Linked DNA regions of Homo sapiens: region 1 is linked to region 2. Evidence: fine-mapped expression QTL. A gene starts in region 2. The other region holds a variant in brackets. All regions are shown on one strand. Distances are from middle to middle.

Region 1 (2,922 bases), 88 kb before region 2:
ATAAAGAAATGGGAGAGTGGGAGCAAGAATAGGAAGTCGTGTCCTGGGGCGAGGGAAAAGATGATGATGATGATGTAACATTTACTGGGTTTCACTGTACAAGACACCGTTAAAACCCTTTAGATGAGGCAACTCTTTTAATCTCCATTCGTATGAGGTCAGCCATCTTACTAGCCTCTTTTTATAAATGAGGACACTGAGGCTTGGAGAGGTTAAGGAACAGGCCCAAAGAAAGACAAATGGAAAGTGCAGAGCCAAGCAGTGAAATCTAGTAGGCTGATCCTAGAATATATCTCTAAACACACTACAGCTGTCCCCCATCAAGATGTAAAGAACGTGAGGACATAGGACAAAGAGTGAGAGGACAATATGGCTTGAACAGATGTGGTAAGACAGCTGGAGTTGACCTAAAAAAGGGTGTAAAATCCAGGTGTGTAAGGCAATAACAGATGTAAGGGAGGGTAGAGTTGGAACTCGGGCTTTCAAACCTTCATCTCCAACCTTAACTAGCATCTTCCTATCTAGGATTTTAGTGGGGCAGAGAAGAGAGGTATATACCCACACACCTATGTTTGAAAATGGAATTACAGACTTTAAAGGTTATTTAAAGATTTAAACAACTTAAAGATTATTTCATGTAGCTATCTTATTTAATAGATGAAGTCCAGGGAGATGAAATGACTTATTCAAGGTAGCCAGGACTAGAAACATGTCGTTTACCCTAGATCCAATGCAATGAAGTTTAGAGAGTTCTTTCCTCTTTTTCCAGCTGCACTTGCTGTCGTTATATTAGTTTTAACAATTTGATATATCATTTAACCTGGACTGTTCCTTCCAGCCATGTAAATTAGTTATGTATGACATCAAATAGTCCATCCTTCCTTCTTAGTGTGTGTTCCAAATTCAGTGCAAAGCTGGAACTAGGAGCTTCTTCCAATACAATTGAGTGGCAACTGAGGTCTTCCAGCATTTCTAAGAATTTCAGTTCTAAAATGAAGTCCCAGCATTTTGGGATGCTGAGGTGGACGGATTGCTCAAGCCCAGGAGTTTGAGACCGGCGTGGGCAACATGGCGAAACCCCTTATCTACAAAAAAAAAATTTTTTTAAGTTTGCCAGGTGTGATTATGCACTCCTGTAGTCTCAGCTACTTGGAGAGGCTGAGGTGGGAGGATTGATTGAGCCCAGGAGGTTGAGGATGTGAGCCATCAAGGCGCCACAGCACTCCAGCCTGAGCAATAGAGCGAGACTCTCCAAAAATAACTGGATAAATAAAATGAAACAAGAGAAAGCTGACTAATCCAAAGGGCAAGGTGGTTTACCTTAAAGAAACTCAAAAGAAAATGGAAATCTCTACATATATTGAAAAAGATTACAGGAAAATTTTCATCAATTGATGATGTACTGTTCACAAATACTGTAATTCTCCTGGAATATAGTAAATCATATTCCAGAGAGGAAATTTGGAGTAATTGAAATTGTGGGCGCAGG[A/C]ATCAAGTACAGCAGATTAGCCACTTACTGGATTTGTAAATAGATTTACTTAACTTTGATTACTTCATTCCTAAATGAAGATAACTTTCTAACTTGCAGAATTAGAAGTGTTGTTTGTAAAGTATTTAACACAATGTCTAGAACAAAGTTGGTGATAAACACACAGTGATTATTACTACTCTGAATCAAAAGTGAAGGATTGCTAAACCTTGTAAGCAGTCACTGCAGCTTTTAGGCCTGGTTTTTCAGTGAAAAGATCAAAGAGTAGCCTTCTTTGTTCACCTAATGATAATTAAGGGTGAAAAATGTTGATGCATTTCCTGAAAGGTATGTCTCTTATTTAAAAGCGAATGAAAGTTTTAGATGGCTAGATGGCCTGTGAATAGGAATCTGCCCACAATGATCCTTTAAAACTATTGTGGCTGTTTAAGATAACTTATTTTTGAATTATTGTTTCCTGGACAATTGGCAACATAGATTCTAAATAGCTGACTTTGTACTCCTTTACAGATGCATGGTCATGGAGGCTATGATTCTGATTTTAGTGATGATGAACGCTGTGGAGAATCCAGCAAAAGGAAAAAAAGGTAAGTAATTTTTTTTTATTGATCTATTTTTCACATCCTTTCTAGATTAATATGAAGTATAAATAAACAAGAGTGAAATTTTTGAATTCTGTTTACATGTGAAGACAATTGCTCTAGTGAATGAATTTTTGTTCATTAAGCTAATACATTGATTAAAAATTGGAGAACAATTGTGGGAAAAATAAAAATTAATTCTGCAAAGGGGTTTATTGAAAGGGAAAGAAGAGTTTCAGATTTCTGGAATCTTTTCAGAAATCAGTGAAACCTTTTCATTACATATATTTTTCATTCAACTGTCAAGGACTGTTTATTTGTAAATGTTGTAGCTCAGAAGGGGCTTGAATGGTGGTCTCTTGCCATTACTTGCCTTCAAAGTGAAGTTAATATGGAGGATGAAAGTATAATGCAGCACAGTTCTTACGCATACGTGAATGAGCAGACTAAGGTCACGGGAAGAAACTCAAGGAAGGTTTTTTTGAATTGCAAGAGACAAAAACTCTTAGCACATAAAGCCTGTGCGTTATAAGCAGGATACGTCTTGGTGGAGCTGCTGTGCGTAGGAGCATTGTTCTTAGCTTTCAGTGCATAGAAACTCAGTTTTATACTTTGACTCAGGAGTGGTTGACTGATGTATACTAACCAAACTTACACGGCTGTTGACTGATTTTTTTAAGCAAATGTATAGAAATTGGCTTATTATTTCACACTGAGAGCAATATATTAGGCATACTAACAGGTTCTGAACATTTTTATAGGATACTCAGTCTCTGCAATAAAGGATAGTACTAATTATAATAAATTACATTTTTGATGCTTTACATTTTCTAGATTTTTCATTCAAAAATA
Region 2 (2,906 bases):
GTTTTTCTATTTCTATAAGGGGCATCTCAATGCCTTGTATTTGTGCAGTATGCTGTTGGTCTTCAAGAGGGTCCAAATGTCCCACTTACTTGATTGGAATTCATTCTTGAAAGATCTGGGTTATGGAGCAGTGGGAGTGGTCAATTGCACTTAACCATCACCTAAATTCACATATGTAATGAATTCCAAATTTGAACATCTGAACTTTCAAATGGCATCATTTTTTCTCTTTGCACATTTGGTCGATAGATGAAAGAATTGATTTACTAGCAAATCCATCCAAAAAACCTGAATGTTTTCGAAGGACTGTGAATGAGAGGCATGGGGAGCAGTTCACAAGTCTTGGCATCTGGGCACGTTGGCCCATCTCCCTAGTGGGGTAGTTTGTTTTGCTGGTGTTGCTGAGAAGGAAAGTCCCCCAGAGCACTGGAGGAGGCGTAAGGGAGGGTGTGTGGAATGCACCAGGGCCAGGTAGGATCACCTGATAAAATGCCAAACTTTACATGGGACATACTTATACTTCAGAAAATAATAATTCATTGTTTATCTGAAATTCAAGTTCAACTGGGCAACTTGAAATTTCATTTGCTAAATTTGGCAACACTAGGCCTGGGTGATCCTCTTCCCTGCCACCCACATTCCCCCGGTTATTGCCAAACTAATGCCACAAGGATAGCACTATCTCTCTTTCCCATTTGTTCCTCCCTGACCCTGCCAAGACCTCTGCCCCACTGTCATAAGGCCACCTACCTTTTTCACATCTGGGACATTATGAGTTTTCTTCGTGTGAGCAGCCCAACCCACTATCCCAATGTCCAATGGAAACACAACTTCTTTGTCAGGGCCCACCAGGTTGTCCTCAAACTTGGAGGTGGGGGTGACATCCAGCAACCTAGAGGCCACCTCAGGTATGCCGTTCCGGGACCGGCACAGGAACATGCTGCAGCGGTCAGCCTGGAGCAGGTGGGCCAGCCTCTGCAGGGCCCTGTGAACCCCCTGCTCTGGGGTGCCCCCCTCCTCCTGCACGGTCCACAGCAGCTCCAAGCACAGGGCTGACTCCTCCACCTGGGTCAGCTCAGAGAAGGACATGCTGGACTGGACTGGCACCTGGCTGTTCTTGAAGATTTCTCCCAGCACCTCCACCCGCAACTTCCTGTCAAAGTACTCCTTGGCAAACTGAGGGTTCTCCTCCAGGTATTTCTCCACGGCAACTTGGTTGATCTCACCCATGGTGTGGCTTGCTTTGCTGCGTTTGTTCAGAAAGGACGACCTTCAGAGCACTACCTGAGGCAGAGTGATGAGAAGGAAATTCATCCTGGTGGAAATTACTGAGGAAACCGTAAATGGTCCCTCATAGGACTTCCAAAGGTCAAGCAGAAAGCAGAGCTTTCAAACTGCCTGTAACTCTTGGGATGTGACAGAAGGCCCTGGCTTAGGGTGGGATTCAGGAAGCACAGGATTAAAGAGTTCTTCAGGACACTAAATCCCTGAGCATTAGTAGCTCATAAGTCCCTAGCGAATCTTCAGAGTATCTTAGATCAGCCCAGCAAGTAGCAAGCTGAGGTGTCTATTCCAGAAAAATAACTGAATGTCGGCTGCTGTCCACAGCAAGGAAGAATCACTGACATATCCATGAATGACACGACATTGGCAACAATTGGCACTTTGAATCGTTCTTGTATGATAGCTATAGGAAGTAAAACTATTTAGACCTCGGAAGTGCTTGGATTTTTTTTGTTTATATAGCAACTGTAATGAACATCTGGGAGATATGGAACAGTTTGCATCACTGCAACATAAAGGTGAATATTAATCTTTCCTTTTCTTAAAAGTCTTTTGATCACCAAGGTTGCTTGGCCTCCTCTTTCTCTAGAACCTTCACCTCTCAATCCCTGTCACTTCAGAAAGCTTGACCTCAGAAGTGTTTTAAAGGAGTAAACCTCAAGCTTATTACTAAAGAGGTGAACATAGCAAAATATTTGCCAATGATCCAAACCTAATCAAGTCATGAATTGAATAATAACCCTTGTCGAGAGACTGTAATTACAAAAGGTAACCTACATAGTTGCTGGCTGGGTTTTTCTGCTAAGTATCTTAGTTAGGATTTTGTTTTCAATAGTAATAGCCAGAGGTCATGCGATTTTGCTACAACATACAGTCTACTAAATCTACTAGATGATAGATATCTTGTCTGTTGCTAGGATCCTTAACGTCTCAGGGGCTACTGGCATAGAAAGAACACTTACCACTACTTAGTTTTGTTTAATGTTCACTTTACTAAGCTTTTACATCTATTAAACACATTTCCTCAAATATTTAAACACTATTATGCAACTAATAATTCAAACTATTAATTCATGAACCAATTGCCTTCGATACTTAAATGTTGGTTTCAAACTTAGTCAAGGTGTTTTAAACACTTCAATAAAGCTACAAACCTAATATGACAAATTCTCTTAAGTGGAAAACACACACATGTTACAGTGACTCTAAAAATTATTGTTACACCCACATTTAAGTTTGCTTCAAAAATAGAAACCCTATGAGTTTCATTGAGTTCTCTAAGATTTACCTCTCTAGATAGTAATCTTTTTCTTTTTTTTTTTTTTTTTTTTTGAGACTGAGTCTCGCTCTATTGCCAGGCTGGAGTGCAGTGGTGCGATCTCAGCTCACTGCAACCTCCGTCTCCTAGGTTCAAGTGATTCTCCTGCCTCAGCCTCCCGAGTAGCTGGGACTACAGGTGGGTGCCACCACGCCCAGCTAATTTTTGTATTTTTGGTAGAGATGGGGTTTCACCATGTTGGCCAGGCTAGTCTTGAACTCCCAACCTCAGGTGATCCACCTGTGTCAGCCTGAGAGATAGTAATCTTAATAGTCACAAAAGAAAGAGAGATCCGTTGAGGTTG

Which allele goes with the higher level. Positions count from the first base shown, and alleles are read on the strand shown. Sizes are in standard deviations (SD) of each study's normalised expression.
In carriers of allele C in region 1, the expression in cerebellar hemisphere of the gene that starts at base 1,419 in region 2 tends to be higher than with A alone (small effect, 0.35 SD a copy in GTEx).

The links.
Region 1: its variant is fine-mapped to the expression of PDE6C in cerebellar hemisphere (GTEx, PIP 0.93).

What each region holds. Positions count from the first base shown.
Region 1 is chr10:93,699,184-93,702,105 of GRCh38, reverse strand. It overlaps FRA10AC1 (FRA10A associated CGG repeat 1), which reads left to right. Exons shown (of 14, transcript NM_145246.5): 2 at 2,000-2,076. The coding sequence starts at 2,000. Among named protein-coding and RNA genes, the nearest start is that of FRA10AC1, 1.9 kb to the left of the region's middle. The variant A/C (reference allele first, on the strand shown) is at 1,490.
Region 2 is chr10:93,611,050-93,613,955 of GRCh38, reverse strand. It overlaps PDE6C (phosphodiesterase 6C), which reads right to left and starts at 1,419. Exons shown (of 22, transcript NM_006204.4): 1 at 751-1,419. The coding sequence starts at 1,230.